2 separate regions of the Homo sapiens genome follow, and region 2 is linked to region 1. Evidence: fine-mapped expression QTL. A gene starts in region 1. The other region holds a variant in brackets. All regions are shown on one strand. Distances are between the middles of the regions.

Evidence for each region. PIP is the estimated chance that this variant, and not a neighbour inherited with it, causes the effect.
Region 2: its variant is fine-mapped to the expression of ITPR1 in skeletal muscle (GTEx, PIP 0.98).

Annotation. Positions count from the first base shown.
Region 1 is chr3:4,487,893-4,498,994 of GRCh38, forward strand. It overlaps ITPR1 (inositol 1,4,5-trisphosphate receptor type 1), which reads left to right and starts at 5,456. Exons shown (of 62, transcript NM_001378452.1): 1 at 5,456-5,713; 2 at 6,539-6,614. It overlaps ITPR1-DT (ITPR1 divergent transcript), which reads right to left and starts at 5,271. Exons shown (of 2, transcript NR_108075.1): 1 at 4,892-5,271; 2 at 2,425-3,476. RefSeq lists silencers at 5,525-5,794, 7,093-7,387.
Region 2 is chr3:4,808,768-4,819,869 of GRCh38, forward strand. ITPR1 (inositol 1,4,5-trisphosphate receptor type 1) reads left to right here. Exons shown (of 62, transcript NM_001378452.1): 56 at 2,498-2,693; 57 at 4,375-4,467; 58 at 5,656-5,795; 59 at 6,286-6,451; 60 at 9,315-9,475. LOC124906209 (a long non-coding RNA gene) reads right to left here. Exons shown (of 5, transcript XR_007095795.1): 5 at 5,525-5,664. Among named protein-coding and RNA genes, the nearest start is that of EGOT, 63 kb to the left of the region's middle. RefSeq lists an enhancer at 5,308-6,507 and a silencer at 9,329-9,715. The variant T/G (reference allele first, on the strand shown) is at 5,279.

The DNA.
Region 1 (11,102 bases):
CCCAGGCTGGAGTGCAGTGGCATGATCACAGCTCACTGCAGCCACTATCTCCCTGGGCTCAGGTGATCCTCCCACGTCTGCCTCCCAAGTAGCTGGGACTACAAGTGCATGCCACCACGACCAGCTAATTTTTATATTTTTTGTAGAGATGGAATTTTGCCATGTTGCCCAGGCTGGTCTTGAATTCCTGGGCTCAAGTGATCTGCCCACCTTGGCCTCTCAAAGTGCTAGGATTATAAGCTTGAGGCACTGTGCCTGGCCTATCTAAATAAATTATTATACTGGAAGCTGCAAATTTGCTAATGTTATTATTTCTTCTACATGTATTAGCTGAATTATTCTGTAAGGAAGAGCTTTATGTTTTTTCTTTGATACACAGATTTCATTTCAGTTTAAACACTAGGATAAGACAAAAAAGCCTTTTCCAAGATTTCTTCAAGTCCCCAGATCTAGCTTGTCTACCAGAGCAATTTAGGATGACAGTCTTGCAGATGGGAGGCAGGAGATGGGGTAGTTAATAATAGACCCCTGGCTCTGCATGTTTTACAGGAAAATAATGAATAAGAAAATAATAGTTCTCTTTACTTGCTTACATGATTCTAGACAACACTGGCAGCAATCATCAGAGATGGTATAGCAGCTACTTCCATATTGCATAGAGTACTAAGAATTCTTAATTTTTGCATTATTTTGTAGTTATCATGCTGCCTTCCAGATTTTAAATTATTGACATTTTGTCCATGTTCCCTCCACTCACAAGGTGACTGACCAGCAGTTTCTTCCGCACTTCAGAGATAGGACAACAAAAATAGGCCCTCTTGCTGTGTCTTCTCTCATTCTCACAGGATATCTAGAGCCTGGATTCAGAAAACATCTTACTTTCTATAGCTCCATACCAAGTCGTCCTCTCTCCTGCCCTTGTTCGAATAGCAACTCCACTTTTTCCATGTCAAGTAGGGTTGATTAAGTGTCTGTAGGTCATTTCTTCTGGTCATCTTTGTAAGTTCCAATTAGCCAGTAAGTGCTGAATGCTTACTCTGTATCCAGAGCAGAACAAGATGCTGCAAAGGGTCCTACATTTATAGGACTTAGTCCCTATCTTCAAAGAGGTTATCTGAATGGTGAGACAAAAATCACCGAAAAATACAGCTAAAAGATAATCTAGTCTTGTGGGAGTATCTATGAATGATTTTTAGAGGACTGGTACAAGAAACTTAAGAACTGGTGCAGAAATTTGCAGTATCTGTGTTGTGCTGGGGCAAGTGCCCATGGATTTTGTGAGTTTCCACGAGGGCTGTGACTCTATCCCTCCACCATAAAACATTCACAATGACCAAGAGAGACTAGTTGGACTAGCTATGCAGTAGCTATTTGTCTTTGCTGATGTTTTCCATGGTCAATGGTAGTCCATCACATTAGATAATATAGTGTCAGTGCCAAAATATAGATTGAATTCTATGATTGGGTGTTGGACATTCTTTCTTGCCATTTAAGTGTCATTTAGAGTTATTAATTAAAGCACTCAAGGCTCATTGTGACATTCATAGGTGATTCTGTTCTTTTTTTTTAAATTTTTTACAGGTACATAGTAGGTGTATACATTTTGGGGTACATATTTTGATATAGGCATGCAATGTGAAATAAGCGCATCATGGAGAATGGGCTATCCATCCCCCTCAAACATTTATTCTTTGAGTCACAATCCAATTACACTCCATAGGCAATTGAAATCTTATGCCTGAGAGAAAATTGGGAATAGTGCTGCCCCAATAATCTGAAGTTTGGTTTGGAACTGAGTACTGTATCAGGACGCATCAACATTATCTCCATTCTTGTCAATAATATTCTCTTACTTTAGTATAGCGAGGGTGAGTTTGCAAAGCCCTTTCATGTCCTATGACCCATTGACCCAGTGAGATTGACAAGGCAAGGATTGTTAGTATCACTTTATCAAACAAAACAAAACAGGATATAAATGGTACAGCTGGGTGTCAAAACCATTTTCTCCGATCCCTCCTTTCTCCAGCTTATCTTGCTCTCTTAACCAGGGCAGCATTTGAGGTGGGCTTCTAGGCAGATGAATTCAGTTAGAGTTTTCAGCTGTGTACTGCTGATGAAACCTGCTTCTATTTGTAGGTCTTCCCTGGGGGTAGGCTCAAGTGCTAGTTTTGGACTTTCTTCAGACTTCTGCTCAGTCTATGATACTGTACTGACCTTGCAAAGCCCTCGTAGTTCCCTGCATGAACATTTCAAGGGCAAAGTCATAAATGGCCATTTTAATGGGCTGGTCATCATCTCGAATTGTGATCCTGGGAATCAGATTCTTGGTTTTCTAGATCAGTGCTGCATAATATATGATATGAGCTATACATGTAATTTTTAATTTCCTAGTAGCTATATTAAAAAAGGAAAAAGCAGGTAAAATAAATTCTAATAATCTATTTTATTTAACACAAATATCCAAAATATTACCACTTCAACATGTAATCACTATACAAATTAAGATATTTTGCTTTTTTTTGTACTAAGTCTTTGAAATTCAATGTGTTAACATCTATTTCACATCTCAGAACTAGCCACATCTTACGTGCCTAAATGGCTAGTAGTCACTATACTGGAAAACACAGGGATAGAAAATTCTTCTAGAAAAAAATAGTGAAGAGAAAGCAGCTCCTTTCCCTCTACTGATAACAGAGAATGAGTTAGGCAGTGACCCTTATATTCTGACATTAATCATCATAATTTATCAGTCATACATCATCATAGAGAACCTCTTCACATCATAGCAAAATTACTTTCTAGTGACCTAGCAGCTTCTAGACCTTAAAAATGTTGAATAGGATTATCCATACATACAGGCGGAGAAAATAGGCTATGATAGAGATGGGCTACGAGGTGTTGCATGCTCCAAAAATATGGTCATGTATCCTGCCATATGCCTGACACACCTTCCATTAAAACATCTTCTTAACAAACTTTTTTTTTTTTTTTTTAACACATCTACTAAAATGTGCAGAAAGAAGAATAAGTCCTTCTGGGTCAGGGGAGGTAGAGAGCACAAGCATGAATAAGACATAGATGCTGCCTTCAGTGAAATTTGTGGTCTCCGAGGGAAGACAGTGGATAATGCAGGTAGGAGATAAATGTCCATTATATGATGAAAATGAAAATTGTCCAACTGGATCTTCAGAAAACCGCTGTTAATATTCCATTGTTTCTGAGTTAGAAGCACATGAAATAATTACCCTTCACTATTTACCAGTTACACAGGCATACACTGATTTGTTGAATTTGCTTGAAAAGTAGAGCCGAAGATCCTTTGAAAATGGAAGAGGTTTTCATGGGGGAAGAGATGAGTGGGGGCGAATGAGAAACATCTCCTTTATATGGCAGATGCGGCAGTTTCTTGATGATGGGGAGAAGCAGCTTAACGTATTAGGCACTAGACCCCAGCGTCCAGTGACCAGGGGATAATGCTGACAGGGAACGGAGGGCAGGAGTGAATATCGTGAACACAAACTTTGTCTATTTCAAGAGCTTTGCCCCTTCCTGGACTGACATTAAATGCTTATCTGAGCAGGCAAATACAGTGCACATGTTTACATTGGGGAGGTAGCGGAGACTAGTAGTTTAGGACCAGGGTTCAAGACTCAGCTATTTGTGTGACTTTGGAGGAAGTAATTTAATCGCTTTGTGCCCCCCCTCAGTTTTCTCATAAGTAAAAAATGGCTTAATAGGATTTAATTAGGTGCTATACAGAAAGAGTTTAGACCAATGCCTGACACATGGCATTCACCCAATAAGTGTCAATAATTATGATTCGTTTTGGCATTATTATGTCAGTAATAACTATTAGCTATGATTCTCCTCTAATTTGTTCCTAAAGTTTCATGAGACTCGATTTTATATTAAGGAATCCTGCTAAAAAGTAGACATATTCTAATAAGAATTTCCTTCAGATGGCAAAACTGGGGCAAAGAGATGAAAATGACTTGCCCAAGGGCTCAGAGGCTGCTCCTAAATGGGGAGAGAGGCTATTTAAGGCAATGGCGGTGGATTTCCCCAAAGACAAGGGTTTCATACACGTAGAGTCTGGAACGGGAGTCCAGGCTGTACCACTTAACTCGAGGGGTCATTTGGGAAGTTACCTGATTTCTCTGAGCCCTGGATTGTGCACCTGCCAAATAGATATAATAAATATACCTACAGTTGGTAAAACTCAATAGCATGACGCATGAAAACTGCATGTGGTCTGGGCTCAATAAAATCAGCCTCCCCATTGATTATTATCATTATTATTACTATTGTTATAACAGATCTTTAGGCGGCGTCAGGAAGTGCCTGTCTGGGATGCTATAATGCGTTTGGCTCACCACTATGCCCCAGCGCCTGGCACCTAGTAAACACTCAGGAAACGTTTGAGGAATGAATATACGTCATTTGAGGCAAGACAGGGCAGTCGGCTGACTGCCTCCGGGCTTAGCTCTTCCCCTCCTTGCAAAAGCCGGAGCCCTAAGCAGCGTGTAGCCCGGGAGCCCAGGCATTACTTGGCAGCGGGTGAAACCCACCTTGCCCCATTCGGAGCTCTTGGAGAGCGCCCCGCCTGGATGCGCATCTCTGTGTGAGCGGCTCTTTCCTAAGCCCTTATTTTTCTGGTTTGCGGTTTATTTACTTAAGCATTTACAGCTCCCAGGAGCAGAGGGGCTGCTAGAGGTACGGTCAGGACTGAGGTCGCGGTTTGTATTTATTTTCTGCCTCCCAATCTCAGAGCCGGCAAGTCACAACACGGCTCCTTTATTTGTGCACCGGAGAGGTCTGCCTTTCTTTACCTCCTCACGGGCGATAAAAGACAAGCAACTCGGGCTCAGAAAAGTGCTCTCACGCGACTTGCCTGTGTCTCCGCTTGCGTGGACCGTCGCTCCCAGGCTTGGTTTCTCGTGCAAACCCGAGCAGGGCGGAGCAGATTAAATAAAGACACCTCGCGCCTTTAATCCTTGACCGCAAACACTGGCGTTTTTGTGCCCCGGATTTCTGAAATTCTTGGCTCGGGGAACCAAGGCAGGGGGAGGGTGGGCTTGTAAAAACTTCCCAAAGCAGAAATCCGAGCTCCTAGCCCCTCCCCGGCCCCAGTGACACCTGGATTCCAGGGAAGGGGGGCAGCCGGAGGAGAGGCGTCCCCAAGGGTTGCGGGCGCTTCCCAGGGGTGACTTTGAACGGCTGGCTCCAAGCCCTACCGACCCCAGCCAAGGAACAGGCTCAGCAGCCTGAAAGCCTCGCAGGACGCCCCTCCCCTGTCCCCGCACGCGTCTATTTAGGGCCCAGCCCGGGCGCCCAGGGGATTCTGGGACTTGTAGTCCCTCCCCGCAGCCTCAGGCGCCGCCACGACCCGCTACTTGGACTACATTGCCCAGGGAGCTTCCCGGCCTATATAAGCCACCCGGAGCCGCTTTAAAGTGCAGTAACCATGTGGATGTGCTGCTGAAGCGTTTCCTCAAGCTCGCTGGGGTGGGAGGAGAGGAGGAGGAGGAGGTGGTGGTGGAGGAGGAGGCAGGGGGTGGAGAGAGAGAAAGCGCACGCCGAGAGGAGGTGTGGGTGTTCCGCTTCCATCCTAACGGAACGAGCTCCCTCTTCGCGGACATGGGATTACCCAGCGGCTGCTAACCCCTCTCCTCGCCCTGCTCCCCCAAACCGGCGTGGCTCCCCGGGCACCAAGGTAGCGGCTGGGGCCGGGCAGAGGGCGCGGGGAGTTGGCACTGGCTCCCCGGGCGCAGAAGTTTTTGCCCCGCTCTCGGGGAGATCTTGATGGATGTGCATGCACTTGGCATGCATTTGGGGGTTCCTTTACTGCGGGCAGTTGTTTTGGGGGGAGCTCATTTGAAGCTTAAAAAACAAATATCCTCTACTCTAGTGCGTGGCTTTGGGGGCTCCCCATTCTGGTCTGATGTGGCATTCCCCCAAGTTGGAAACTGTTGCTGCAGCTGCAGGAAATAGTTCTTTTTTTTTTTTTTTTTTTGAAGAGAGGTTGTGGGGGTGTCATATGTGAGTCTGCTCAAGGAAATAATCTTTCTAAAAATGTATCCCTCTCTTGCGCTCCGTGGTTGGGAGAATAATGCATGTGTAGGGGCCCCCCGTGGGGAGGGTTTTTAAAAACGGAAGAAAACCGGAGAAGCGGTGAGGGATGAAGTGTGGACGAAGCTCATGTCCAATGAGGATGCGGGCTTCGGATACTTGGCCTTCTCGCCGGGAAACAAGTGCTTTGGGATCTGCCAAACACTTCCCTTAGTTCCAGCCTCCCGCACGTTCGAAGTTTGTGCGTGCCTAGTCTCAATTGTCAGTTACATCCTGGAAATAAGTAAGCGTAGTTACCTGGAATCTTCGCCCAAGCGATCCCACCAACCTGCCTACCAAGTTTGGGGGCGGGGGGGCTGTCCCCAGTGAAGGAGGCTAAAGAAGGTGGAAACTTGTAATTTGGAGCATTTCTGTTAGAGCTCATCTTCCGCGGTCTGGTACTCAGTCTTCTTTCTTTCTAAATATTTAGGAGCTGACTACAGAGGAGCAGGATTTGCACCCCTCGCTGGGCTTGCTTTGGCAACAGAGTGCCTGACCCAGGTCAGGTGAGTGTGGAAGCCTGAGTGCTGTAGTCAATAATGAGTTTTTGTCCTAAGCCTATTTTAAGTTCTATCTAAACCGCCAAGGAGGTGGGGAGTAAGAAAGAAAAAGAAACTCCGTGGCTCAGTCTTCAAAATTTGCCTCTGCCTTTGGTGAGGGCTTTTGGGAGCAGAGGTCCAGTGGACAGTCCGTTTCTTGGAAGTAGCTGAGAATTGAAGGAGCCTGAAAGTTTATGAGAGAGGAGGGGAAAAGGCCATTAAATGGAGCAATAAAACGGCGGCCCATTGCCGGTCTGAAAAGCATGCTGATGATTTAAATTCTGAAGGATACAGTGCATTTCATATGCCAAAATGTGTAAGCAGTATTAACTGCCTCTCTCCTTCAAGAAATAGTCACTCTTTTCTAATTTTGAACGTGTGCTTAATCAGAGTAGGTTGGATTGCAAGAAATGAAAGTGGTTGCTGCAAGTTGAAAGAATTAGAACTTTAAAAAGGGAAGTGAGTTATTGAAGCTTAAGGTGGTAGCATCCAGCCCTTGACTCAAGCCACCTGAGTGTCAAGGAATCTGGCAGGTCCCTGTTGTTTTGGGGCCCGTGGTGGAATATGAGCTGAGAGCAGCATTTATCTGTAAACACAACAGTTCCTATTTTTTCCCCAAAATGGTCAGACTGCATTTGAAGAGTGGGAGGTTTCAACGGGTGCACGTACATCACTATTGCTGCAGATTTGGCTATCAGGAGTTTTTTCTCCTGAAATGTTCAGGAACATGGTAAATAACAGGGTAACAGAGGTAGGTGGGGGTGGGTGGCTGGGTCTTAATAACTTTTTTAACATTCTAAATATTTAGCTGTTCCCTGGGCTACAATCTTTGGGCTTTTCTAATGAGAAAATAAAAGTCAGACACTTCATTATAGTGGTATAGTGCTTTTGTTTCCTGTTGATAAGATCCTCAGGAGTACTGGCGGAGTGAGAAGCATTTGGATGTGAGAACTCTAGTTTCTTCTTGGAGTTCTGTTGACTCACATGGCTGTGTGGGTGCTCATAGAGCCAAGGATTAGGCCCAGTTCCCCTTTTCAGAATTAGCTGTACAGCAAGGAAAAACTGGTCCACAGACTCTTTTCTAACTGGTTGCTAAAAATAATAAGATGGACACATTAAGTACTTGTAAGCCAGGTCCAGAGCCATGTATCTCAGAAACCCTGTGCGTCAGATGCAGGTGAAGAAACTGAGGTGCAGAGAGTGAAATCACTTGCCCAGTAGCTAGTACAAAGTAGGAGCAGGGTGTAACCTCAGGCGGTGAGGCTGTACTGCATCCCACAAATGGACCTCAGTTGATTTGGGGATGCTGGTGGTGAGAGGGAAGCTAGGAAAAATGGTAAACTTACTGCTACTGATGAAATAACTTGCATACCTCCCACCAATGATGAAATAATACATAACATTGATGTAAGAAGGAAAGGATGTAGCCACAAACATAGGGATAAAAGAGTGCAGATATTTGAGGAGGTATTAGATACTGTAATGAGTTCATTTTGGAAAGCCTGAATGGGGAGAGTAAAAAGAAACAAAACCACAAGGAACATTATGTAAGTTAAGCATTAGGCTCACCTCCTAGCTGAAATACATCTTGATTGTTTACATCAAAGAATCTGAGTAGGTTAAAAGGATCAGGCGTTTCCCCATCTGAATAATTCGAAAGTTTAAACTGCAGTTAGACTGCAATGTGAAATGTTGATACCTTTTCATATACCTTCCAGTTTGCTTTGCAGCCAGTTGTGCAGACGTTTTTGTTCTCCATTTTTTCTTTCAAGTTCATGTGTGTGTGTGTGTGTGTGTATGCATATGTACACTGAAAGTACAATCTGCTCTTTGAATAATTCAAATCAGAACAGAAAATCCTTTCAAGATATCATTCTTATCAGGCAGGGAAAGTTCTTCATGTTCTAAGTGAATTACTCTGGCTCTTGCCTTGAGACCCATGAAAGTCATTTGGGGTTGACAATGGTATCTATTTAAACCAAGTGATTGTCTTTTGGAGGGAATTGGCATCTTTTCTTTAGGAATGAGAAGTGGAATGGTTGCTTAGAAAAAAAGAGATAGATGAACTCCACAGAAAGATCAAGAGTCTTTTCTTCAAAATATTTTTAAGTGAGGAAGATCAGGGTGTTGGTATTGCGGGGAGGGAGGAGAGTGGGCAGAGAGAAAGATAAAAAAGAAACCTTTAATCCAATGGTGTGCAACCAACTGACTTCCAGAGGGGGGAATATCACATGGCTTTTCAACTCATTTATAAAGATATCATGGAAACTGTCTGATTTCTTCATGAGCAGCTCTTAGAAAACAAACAAAAATAAAACAAACACCAAATATGAACAACAGAAAAAAACAGCCAAAATAAAAGTAGGCCTGGAGTTAGGTTTCTAGGTCAAGCTGTCTTTGGCTACATCTAATTAAGGAGTCTCCACAGGGCCAGTGTCTATCTTGTTTACTATTGGTTTGATTTTTAAAAATAAAACACATTGCATTTGCAGGCTGTCTGTTAACCAGAAGTCCATGCAGTTTTTTTTTTTTCCATTTTTGCTGTTTTAAGTTTGTGCATAGCTCAATTGATGAATGCAATTAAGGCTTGAAGTCGGTGATGTGAATGACATAACTTCTATGATTCCTTACAATTCTCTTGGTTTCTGTGGTTCTGAGATGATTGCTAATGAGAATAAGCCAGATACACCACTGAAACCGTCACCCATTCAACTTTGAGATTTCTAAATTGGATGTAGTTTAAGGCACATGGTGTGGTAAATCTATTTAACAGACTCTAAGACCTGTTCAAGTTGTGTGCGATTCAAATGTTTTATTCTTTATTCAACAAATTTCTTGAGCACCTGCTATGTACTAAGATGTATTCCAGGTGCTCAGGATATAGCAATGAACAAACCATCCCGTTCCCAAGAGGCTTACATCTCAGTTGGTGGGAGGCAGCCAATATAAATAAACAAGTAAGTATTATAGTATTAGAGGTAGTAAAAGCTATGGAGAAAAAGAAAACTGGTTAAAGGGGGAACAGAAAATAACAAGTGGAGAAATTAGATCCCTTGTGCATTGCCGGTGGGAATGTAAAATGGTGAAGCTGCTGTGGAAAACAGCATGGCAGTTACTAAAAAAAATTAAACATAAAATTACTATATGTCCCAGCAATTCCACTTCAAGGTATATACTTTAAAAAATTGAAAGTAGGGACGTGAGCAGATATTTGTACACCTGTGTCAGTAGAAGCATTATCACAGTAGCCAAAAGGTAGAAACAACACAAGTCTACTGATGAATGAACAGATAAAATGTGAAATATACATACAATGGAATATTATTCAGCCTTAAAAAGGGAATTCTGACACATGCTACAATGTGGATGAACCTTGAAAACATGCTAAGTGAAACAAGCCAGAAATAAAAGGACACATATTTTATGATTTTTCTTATAGAGGCATCTAGAGTAGTCAGATCCCTGCAGACAGAAAGTAGAATGGGGATTGCTGGGGGAGATAGAAGACAGGAAGGGGGAGTTAGTGTTTATTGAGGATAGAGTTTCAGTTTGGAAAGATGAAAAAGTTCTGGAAATGGATGGTGGTGATGTCACACAACAGTGTGAATGTACTTAGTGCCACTGAGTTATAACATTTCAAAGTGGTATATTTTATGTTATGTATATTTTACAGTAATTTTAAAAAGCAACAAAACATGATGAGGGGTATTAAGGGAGTACTCAGGTGGGGATTAGATCTTTACTACATGACATCTCAGCACAGATCTGAAGGAGGCAAACGAGTTGACCCTGTAGCTGTCAGGGAAAAAGTGTGTTCCAAATGTCAGAGCAGCAAGTACAGAGGCCCTGAGATAGGAGTGTTTGTGACATGTTGGAGGAAGGAGAAGAAGGCCAGGGGAGAGTGCTAGGAGTTCAGGAGGGAGAGGGAGTCAAGGTCCAGACCTGTAGGGACCAGATTTTGCAGGTCAACAGTGGTTTATCTGAGGACTTGTAAACTCTCACGGAATTCTCAGTGTGGTTTTCAACATCACAAAACTACATTGTCCTTTCTGAAGAGACTCTGGTAAGGTTGGCAGGATCACATACCAGATGGGAACTCGATAGGGGGTAAAACCCAGATTTCTGGACTGTCTGGTTAATGACAGGACTTACCTGGAGTTGTAATTCACTTCAGTAGAAAAGGAAAGTTTGACAAATAGGTGAACGTACAGTTGACTTGGAGAGCAAATTGTAAGAACATAATGATAATCCTGGAGTTTCAACACAAACCTATGTCTTACCGCCACCCTGCGTTGTATCCAGTGTCGTTTTAAGAGATATTTACAAGGAGGACTAATATTCTGCTCTCCAGCATCCTTGAGGAATTAGAAGCTTCACATCAGTGATTCTCCTTAATAAGTGAAGTGGACCCCTGCACATGTGCAAACTTAAAGCAAACCTCAAATTTTGTTACTT
Region 2 (11,102 bases), 320 kb after region 1:
CACCCATGTGTTCCAGAGTTGGGAGAGCTCCCTCCATGCCAGCAGGCCGGAAGGTAGGGAGGGTGATCTGGTGGCCTAATTAAACTGCTGCCCCCCCTCCCCCACAAAGACTGGCCGGACCTGGTCGTGAGCCTGCATTAAAGCTGTGTCCTTAGAAAAATATTAACACCTGGAGATGAAAATGTGCAAAGTTCATAAGCAGGCAGTTAACAAAAGCAGAAATCCAGATGGTCAGTAAACATGGAAAAATGTTCATCCTTGGTGCTAAACAAAGACATGCTAATTAAAACAGCGCAATCCTGTGTTTTACCTGTGACATTAGTAAAGGTTAAAAAGCCTGATGGTGCCCAGTACTAGTGAGAGTGGGGTAAAATGGGCATGATTCTTTACTAGTGGTGAATGTAAACTGATCCTGCCTTTCTGAAAGCAGCAGGCAAAATGTTTCTCTTATACCATTTGACTCAAATACTCCATTTCCAAAAATTCGCCGAAAAGGAATAACTAGACGAGCACGTATGGAGGCATGTATAGAAGTGTTCCTCACAGCATTATTTGTTATGACATATAATTGGAAACATCTTGACTGTTTTTAAAAAACATATTGGTTATGTTAATCATGTTTTTCCCATATAGTGAAATACCAGGTGATCATTTTTGACAGGAAAATGTTCCTGATGGCTTGGTGAAAGGCTGGTTATGTGCCAGTATTATGGTCTAATATTTTTGTAAACAATATATATCTATAAATTGCATTTTTTAAGGCCAGAAGGAATTAAGCTATTGAGCGAATGTCTCTAGATGGTGAATTATTAGTGACTTTTTTTCCTTTGTGCTTTTTTTTGTTTTCCAAGTTTTCTCCATTGAACATGTATAATTTTCCAATTAGAAGAAAGCTTTTCTTTTATATAAATAATACTTATTGATTGTTTTAAAATCAGAAACTATAGATGAGTGAAAAGGAAAAAATCGCTTGTCATTTCTATGATTTGGAGCCTGTGTAATCTCTGCGGTCCTTAACCACAGAAAACAAGTGCCATTTGTTTGTTGTCTGAAGTTGCGCTTACTTGCCACTTTATATTGAGCTGCTGGAAAACATTTAACCAACATTAACAGCAACACTTTGCCTTCTGTCATATTGTATTGACTAAAATCCCTCTTCCTTGCTTCCCTTTAAGTATCCTACTCTACCCAATGCCCTTCACAGAACTAGTCTCAGAACACAGATTGGTGTCAAGGAGGCAGAAAAGCCAATCGACCGGAAAATGACCTCAGATGAAAAATTCTAAATTGGAAGGGACTCAGAGATCAGCTGTCTCAGTCCACTTATTTTACAGATGAGGAAACAGATCCAGAGAGCTTAGATGGCTTGGCCGACATCTTGCAACAAATTAAAAGCAGTCAGGATTCAACCCTGTCCCCTGACTCACTTCATGGTGCAGTCACACCCCAAAGCCACAGTGGAGACCAAACCTTCTGTACAGGATTAGACAGCAGCCAGAGGCCATGCTAAAAACTAGCCTCAGGTCTAAGAGTAACTTCAGAGAGCTCTCTCCCCACACTCCCCACCATTCTCCCAGTCAAGTATCTGTGACTGTAGCTCTTGGAAAACTAGCCATCATCCTCCCATACCTATATGTACCTACAAGGATCCTCCATTCCTCAGGAAGCCAACTTCTTGCAAAGAGCAGGTTCCTTAGCAGAGGGCAAGCCTGGATTGTGAAGGCACTGTGACCTGCAGGGGTCTTACCCTCGCAATGTTAACGTCACTAATGTCCCTGCGATACACCAGCTATGTGACCCTGCCCCAGTCTCTTGATCAGGAAATTGATGATAATTACTATTTACTGTACTTACTGAGCATATGGATGCCAGTGTGCTAAGCACTGTGCGTACGTGGTTTACTTATTCTTCATAACAACTCTACATCCTCCAGTCTGCAAATGAGGAAATGGAGACTCAGAGGGGATGAGGAAAGTGCCTAGCCCGAGATCATACGGTGGACAGTAGCTGAGCTGAGATTTGAATTTACATCTAAGTCCAGAGTTCTTGCCACTGACGCTGGCTTGTAGTACGTCTGCCTTCCCACCAGACACTGGGCTGCAGGAGGGCAGGGACCAGGGTGGCTGGCTCTTCATAAACTCAATTCAGTACCTTCTAAATGAATGGATGCCAAGACCCTCATCACTTTCCTCTCCCTTTGTCTCTGAAACTCATTGGCACAAGCATGTATTTTCTCTATTTCCAGTCCCTCTAAATGGCTCTGGATACTACTTGAAGTTGCTATTGTTTCCTGCTTCCTCTTCTGTGTTTATTTTTCCTCATTTTTACCATCTCCGTTTCACTGTGAAGCCAGGGAAGATGTTCAGTGTTAAGATCATATGTAGTGCTTTTGAGTGTCTAAGAGGGCAAACTCTCTATAAACCAAGTTTGCATTATGGGATAGTGATGTACATCTAACATCAAGGCTTCTTAAAATTCTTTTTGTTTGTTTTCAAAGCTTTTTGATTTAGTGTACAGAGAAGAGACTTTGCTTAATGTCATTAAAAGTGTCACTCGCAATGGACGGTCCATCATCCTGACAGCAGTTCTGGCTCTGATCCTCGTTTACCTGTTCTCAATAGTGGGCTATCTTTTCTTCAAGGATGACTTTATCTTGGAAGTAGATAGGCTGCCCAATGAAACAGCTGTTCCAGGTGGGTTTGGGATCTTCTGATCTTTTTAATGCTAAAAGATTATTTCCTGATTATAACTGAACTAAAGAAAATAACGACTTTAGTAATGCAGATATCTCCCCATTGTATCTCCCTAACACGCAGAGTGTGAATTTCAAATACAGGTCTTCATTCTCACAATGAATGTGGCAATGTGGCATATCAAATGCTAAGAGTGGGTGACCAGATCTGACATTTATTTATTCACTAACATCATCTTTTAAACTAGTGCAACTTTTTTGTAAAGCAGTGACCATACATATTGAGAGCGTTGGAGTATGCATCCCTTTAACTGAGTAAATCTACTTCTAGGATCAATACTTAAAGAAAAAAAGGCTGCCGACTGTGCACGTAGAAACAGACATATATGGGAGAACGTTCGCTGCAGTGTACAGTTGGAAGCAGTGTAAATGTTCGGGGGTGTTTCATCAGATCATGGTACATCCATGAGGTGGGGTGCCTTGCACATAGGTACATCTTTAGAAACCTCCATGGAAAAATACCCACAAGATGTAGTTGGAAATGGCAGAAGGATAACTATAGTAGGATCACATGTATGTCTTTTTTTTTTTTTTTTTCGAGACAGGATCTCACTCTGTCTCCCAGGCTGATGTGCAGTGGTATGATTTCACCTCACTGCAACCTCCAACCTCCCGAGCTCAAGCAATCCTCCCACCTCAGCCTCCCCAGTAGCTGAAACTGCAGGCGCCTGCCACTGCATGTGGCTAATTGTATTTTTTGTAGAGATAGGTTCTTGCCATGTTGCCCAGGCTGGTCTCGAACTCCTGGGCTCAGGCGATCCCCCAGCTTTAGCTTCCCAAAGTGCTGGGATTACAGGTGTGGGCCACTATGCCTGGTCTTATGTTTTCTTAAAAATTAAAAAGCCCATATACATATATTAAAACATGGATGACTGTACCTCCAGACTGCTAGCAGTAGCTCTCTCTGGGGCTTTTTTACTATATGCAGGTTTTACAGTGAGCTCATGTTATTTTTACACATAGCAAGAACAGAAGAGATTTCCAATTCTGAGAGTGAAAAAAAATGACCATAATACTTGAATGGTACCCAAGTGCCCTCTTCTCTCAGTTACAATAGTTGGCCCGACTTAGTGAAATACTACTGGTTTTTCATCCCGAGTCTAAGAAACAGACTAGAATCGTTGTGGCTGACTGAGCCAGCCAGCCTTTGTGCTCTCCCTCCCAAATGCTGTGTTCTTGGCATGTATCTCCAGCCTCCCAAGTTGACACTAAGTGACATTTACTGCCAGCCATCTTAGAGTTGTGGACTAAACTGGCCTGGACCTTGGATTTCTATTAATGCCTGCTAATGCTTCTCGTGCAGACTTGGTATAAATCTTGCCAGAGTCTGTACGTTCAGTAGTATCTGTCTAAGAGTTTCAGCTGTTTGTCTTTAAAGTTGGAGAGGTGCTATTTAAGTGCGATATTTCTAGTAAGCCTACAGGAATTGACATTTTTGGCTTTTTTCCCATCCAGATCACCAAATGAAAGTGTAAATTGCATTTCTGCTTTGAATTTATATGCAAGATTCTAGGGTGTTATTTATGTAAAGAATTGTTTAATCAGCCGTGAATTGGGGACTTCAAACATTTTAACCATATGCTGCCAGATTGTTCATCATAAAATTTCCTTCTCTCTCCCAGAAACCGGCGAGAGTTTGGCAAGCGAGTTCCTGTTCTCCGATGTGTGTAGGGTGGAGAGTGGGGAGAACTGCTCCTCTCCTGCACCCAGAGAAGGTAGGACCTCCTAACTGTAAGCCCCATGTTAATATCGGACTCCTCCAGAGGCTTAGCTGATGCAGGTGATGTTGGAAGAAGATTAAATTTACTGCTCAGGAGTAAGGCTATAGCAAAGGGGAAAGGCTGAGAAAGAGGAGGGAGATGAAGGGAAAAGAAGGTTACACCTGAAGAAAAGATCTGATGTGATTCAGCCGATTTATACTGAGTGCCCGCCATTTGCCAGGGACTGTGGTGTACTCTAAGAGACAGTAATGTAGTGGAGGGTGCGGGCAGGCCAAATGGTGATTGCTAGAGAGTTGCCCAATGCTGGGAATAAGGATGGAATACAGAAGTTAGGCACCCGGCCTACTACTGGGCTAAGCGTATCATCAAGAAAGTGATATCCAAACTATAAAAGGAGACTCTTGATATTCCAAGGAGAGGGAATAGTACATCTAAAGGCTTTAAAGGTAAAAAGAAAAAAACAGCAAGTTTGGGGAGATAATGATTATAAGGAAGGAGAGTGGCAAGAAATGAAGCCACAGATACAAACAAAGGGCTAGATCATGAAGGATCTTCTATGTCAGGCGTAGGAGGTTAAACTTCGTCCAGAGGATGGTCAGGGGTTGTTGGAAGATGAGTGATGAAATCTGTGTTTTAGCAAGACCCTCTGCAGCTGGAGAAAGGAATGAGGCACACAGCAAGGCATGGCTCTTACTGCATAAACCAGTGAGAATGAACAGCCTCCAATGTAAAGCAGTTGATCCAGAGGCCCTGCCGTGAAATATCCCTGGATATAGTCCTCACACCATTCCCAGTGAGGAACCTG[T/G]GTCCTGTGGCATAACCCTCATCTGAGAGACAAGAGGCCTGTGACTCAGAGTTGCGAAGCAACTCATCTGACATGAAAAGACTGTTTGCGGCTGGGTCTGGGGTTTAAAACCTGAAAAGGACAGGGCATGTTTTAGATCCCACAGAGGGAGAGCAATACTACCATAGCTGGAGAAATTAGCGGGGGTTAGCGATGAAAACAGTTGCCCCAGACGACTTTAGCTTTTGAAAGAAAATAAGAAAATTCTTGGCTCTTGATTCCTTAATTTTATTCTTTCGTGTGCCTGGTGAGATGGCATTCAGGAAACAGGATTTCAAAATCCCGGTCTCTCTTTTCTCCTCACGTTTTCTCTCTGTTGTTACTTGCCGTGTTCACAGAGCTGGTCCCTGCAGAAGAGACGGAACAGGATAAAGAGCACACATGTGAGACGCTGCTGATGTGCATTGTCACTGTGCTGAGTCACGGGCTGCGGAGCGGGGGTGGAGTAGGAGATGTACTCAGGAAGCCGTCCAAAGAGGTAAATTAATCCCGAGGGGAAGGAAGGGCAAAGGGGGCGGGTGGGGTGGTTGGTGGGAGCACCATGCAGCGGTGTTGAGTGTAAACTGAAGACGCAGAGGAAGAGCTGGGAGTAGGGCTGAGTAGCTGCGGAACTAGCTCATCAGGCTCCTTTCCTCTCTATCACGTGAGGTGGTGCCGCAAAGTCAGCTGCGTGGAAAGGGTTGGCTTTGGCTCTCTGTTCAGTAGACTTAGGGACTGTTTCCATCAGGGTTAGGCCTGATCCACCTGAACGCACAGTGAATATCCCTCCTGGCTGTGTCACACCACACTTGGAGAAGTCGCAATTGAGACAGGGGACATGAAAAGAGATGCAGTTTTCAGTTTAAAAGTTGAATGCCCAATTTAATTTCTACCCAAGTAGATGAGGTCTCACTTGAGCTGTGCCCCAGGCTCCGCAGACCAAAGGGTCGCAAGGGACCCAGACTGATCCAGACACCTCTCTTTTCCAGGAACCCCTGTTTGCTGCTAGAGTTATTTATGACCTCTTGTTCTTCTTCATGGTCATCATCATTGTTCTTAACCTGATTTTTGGGGTTATCATTGACACTTTTGCTGACCTGAGGAGTGAGAAGCAGAAGAAGGAAGAGATCTTGAAGACCACGTGCTTTATCTGTGGTGAGTGTCGCTGGCCAGCTCCAGCAAGGGCGTGAAGGCCCAGCGTGGCAGAGGCATGTGGATACTGCGAGGGTGTGATGGGCGGGGTGCCTGCCCAGTTATGCGGGAGGGGGCACCGGCTGCTGCTTCGTCTTGACTCTTCTACCCTCTGCCGTGAGTGAGGCTCTCCTTGGCCTTTATTCTGCTGGGAAGTATTTACAGACCTGGGTTCTGACTGAGCTTCTACCACTTAACTAACTGTGTAACATCATTTAGTCATTTAACATCTTTAATCCTTCTTTCTTCATCTGTAAAATGGGTACAATAACATGTCCTTCTCTGCATTATTGTGAGAATTATGAGAGACAGCGTATGTAACACTCCTAGCTAGAACCTGGCACACTATAGGCACGGGAGGAGAAGTAGTGAACGGCTACGTAAAAGAGGTGCATGGACACCAAACAAATCATTTTCAGTATAACTACAGGAAAATATTTGTAAATGTAAACTAATCATGGAGGAATCTGGGGAGCTGAGTAATCATTTCAGGATTATTCATAATATAGCTACTAAATATATAAATTTCCTAGTGGTATGTATGCTAAAAAAAAAGATCAGTTTCCAATTAAAGACTTAAATTCTTTGCTTTTTGCCCCCTTAAAACCTTTTTAAGCTTTTTGCTTTGGCATAATTTCAGAGTTATAGAAAAGACATGACTATCCAAAGAATTTCTATATATTCTTCACCCAGAATCCCCAAATATTAATATTTTATCTCATTTGCTTTATACACACACACACACACACACACACACACACATTTTCTAATGTGAGTGGCTGACAGTGATGCTTTCTTATCCCTAAATATTTTAGTACACATTTCCTAAAAACAAGAACATTCTCTTGTGTATCTACAGTATAATTATCAAAATTGGGAAATTAAAACAGATCCAATACTGTTATCTCATCTACAGACCTTATTCAAATTTCACCCTTCATTCCAATAATGTCCTTTGCAAATCCCACCTCCTGCGGGGCTTCAGTCACCATGCCTCGTGAGCCTCCGCTGACACTGTTGAAGAATGTAGGTCAATTATTTTGTAGAATGTCCCTTGATTTGAGTTTGTCTGATGTTTGCTCATGGTAAGATTGAGGGTATGTATTTTCCACAGGAATATCAAAGACATGCTGTTGTGTTCTTCTCATTGCATCGTATCAGGAGGCATGTAATGCCAGTTCATCTTGTAACTAGTATCTCGGCTCACTGTAACCTCCACCTCCCAGGGTTCAAGCAATTCTCGTGCTTCAGCCACCTGAGTAGCTAGGATTACAGGTGCCTCTCACCACAACTGGCTGATTTTTTGTATTTGAGTAGAGATGGGATTTCACTATGTTGCTGAGAGGCTGGTCTTGAACTACTGAGCTCAGGCAATCTGCCCGTTTTAGCTTCCCAAAGTGTTAGGATTACAGGCATGAGCCACTGCGCCCAGCCGTGATACTAACGTTGATCATTTGGTTAAGGTGCTAATTGCCAGGTTTTTCCAGTAACTCCATAAAGTTACTTTTTTGGAGAGACACTCTGTAAATATCGTGCTATTCCTTAAACTTTCACCCCTCAGCTTTAGCATTCATTGATGATGCTTGGCTAACTCTATTATGATGATGGTTGCCCAATGATGATTTTTATGTTATTATTATTTCTACATTTCTTTATTGGCTTTTTATTGTAAGAAAGAATTTTTTCTTCTCCCCACATATGTGTTTATATTTCTGTGTTTGTATTTGTAACTACATGGACTTGTGGATTTTTATTTTATTCAATGGGCTATTTATTTTGATGTTCAAATTGCTTCAGATGTGGCCAGTGAGAGCCCTTTCCAGCTGACTCCTGGGTTTAGTCATGTCATCATCGTTTTCTATGTACTTTCTTACTTTTTTGGCATCATAATATATTCCAGGCTTAGGCTCACCTTGTACATTTCCTGAGCCATCCCTGGAATCAGCCATTTCTCCAAAGAGCCCCGGTTCTTTTTACTGGAGAAAGGTATTTAGAAGCCAAGATCTGGGGACTGAGTGTGCTCATTCCTGTTGGTGTGCTGCTGCTCTCAGGGCTTATTAGGGTGCAGATCTAGAGGAGAGGTGTATGCATCTGCATATGTGTGTATGTGTACACAGCACATGTATCTGCACACATCTGTGTATATATGTATGAAAAAGGATGAATTCATACTGATACCTTTAATTCCGTTTCAGCATTACAGGGTTTATTCTTTCTCCCTTTCTCTATTTGTGTTCTTTTCTCAGGCAGTGAGGAATCCAGCTCCCATTATCCGTGATATATTTATTTGATCAATCCTAGAATACGTACAGACTAGAATTGCTCACCCCGGCCTCTTCAAATTATAAACCTACCAGCTAGAGTTCAAAATTTGTTTAAAGTTCTTGTTGTCCTTACTTATTCTGTCTCCTCAAAAAACCTTAACATGTCTGCATTTTGGCATTTACCTGGGCGAAGGGACTTCACATTCCCTGGTTGCATGCAATATGTGAGAGTGTCACACACATTCTCATTTTACCCCTAAACACTCCTGGAACCTAGACGGCGGTCTCCCCATTCACTAACAAGGCCACTAAGGCATGTGGAGATGAAGCAGCAACTGCCAAGTGGCAGAGGTGGGATTCAAACCCAAGTCTGTCTGACTCACAGCCTGTGTTTTCCTGCCATAATGTAAACATGAATGTACTTATAAGGCCGACAGAATCCAACTCTTTATAAAGACAGGAGTGAAACCACAGCCCCCTTTCTACTGACAGTTCTGTTATTGATTTTTTTTCTTTACCAAGGCTGCTCAGCTGGGGCTGGGGGCTTTTTGTCTCATTTTTAGGCTTGGAAAGAGACAAGTTTGACAACAAGACTGTCACCTTTGAAGAGCACATCAAGGAAGAACACAACATGTGGCACTATCTGTGCTTCATCGTCCTGGTGAAAGTAAAGGACTCCACCGAATATACTGGGCCTGAGAGTTACGTGGCAGAAATGATCAAGGTGAGTGGAAAGGCCTCCTGGGAGCAAGGTGGACTTGGGGCCTACTCAGCTCTGAGCAAGGCCCCAGCAGCCCATCGGGGAGCTGCACAACAGAAGAATAACATCCGATGTTGCCTGAGCCCTTCTCACGGATGGGGCGCTGTGCTCTGTGAACTTCGTGTGTTCTCTGGAGTGATCCTCAGAACCACTAGATAGGTGGTATTGGCCTGTGTTAGTGGGGGAAATGTTGAGCCTCGGTGAGATTAGCACGTGACCACGGAACTGGGGCTGGGATTTTAATCTGGATCAAACTCCATAGCCCGATTTCCTGTCGCTATGTGAATCTGCCTCTTTTCTTGATAGTGCTTTTTTCCCCTTTCTTTTTAATTAACACCTACTCTCTAAGAGGTGTCTTAGAGGCAAAGTGACTGCTCACTGCAGTCCAGCATGGTTTGTGTTTGCCCTCAGCCTCGCCTTTCTGGGAGACACTCTACTAATCGTTAAGAAGTGATCATATGATGGAGGAATTTGAGTTCCAAATTAATCTTTTCGCTGATGGGAAGTGTGGATACTGTGTCCCAGGAAGCGGGGAAGCTGCTTCAGGCTGTTAGAGAACACTTCTCGGGCAGAGTTTGCTGAGACACCAAACGTGCGCTGTGGGTGTCCCGGGCCAGCTGTCCTTTCAGACCTGTGCTTTCCGAACATCATTAAAATGTTCAGGGGTGGATAGTGGCGTGAGGAGCATGAACTGTGAAATCGAGGGAGTCTCTGTGATTCACGCTGGCTGCCTCTGAGGAGAAGGGGCCAACTCTCCTTCCAGTTACCAAGGACTTGAGTGCTCGGCCTGATAATGACTTACCCTAAAGGAGCCTGCTTTTTACCTAGATGTAATTTTCAGGCTTTTTATGTAAAGATACTGGAAGTCAGGTCTGTTCAGATAAGTATCATCATTGACAGGCCTAGAGGCAGCCAGGCTTTCAGTTTTATTGCCAGCAGGGCAGCGATTACGTGGTTGTGTTTGCTGAATACCCCGATTACAGAGGCACAGAGGCCTCTCCTAGGTTCTGGAGGGCTTTCTGGAGATTCTGTGCCGTCTGTACCCTTGAGGTCCTTAGAGTTGAATTCCATGCTTCTCAAATTTTATTGTACATATGAATCACCTGTGGAGCATGTTAAAATTCACATTTTGACTCAGCAGTCACTTCCAGGACTTGAGATATTCTGCATTTCCAACAACCTTCCAGGAGATGCCGAAGCTGCTGGCCCGGGAATCACCCTTTAAGTAGTAAGAGCCTCACAGAGGAGACAAAGCAGATGCTTACTTAAGATTACTCTCAGAGGGGTTGTGCGAATGATGAGGAGAAATATTCCTAATCCTTTACATACATTTGGCCCTCTTCGGTTTGTAAAATCCTCTCACCTCTAGTATTGTATTTGGTTGTTAAAGTTACGCTCCATGGGGAACCCGGAGGAAGGGACTTCTGGGATGGGGAGAGATGGATGGAGGTTCACGGCAGAGGTAACTTTTGAAAAAGGTTTTGAAAGAGAGGATGAAGTCACTAGGGTCATAGATTAGCAGAAAGAAAGGAGAAAAAAAAATCAGCACAGACTGGGGAGAAAAAGACACAAGTTGCAGAATGCTGATGAT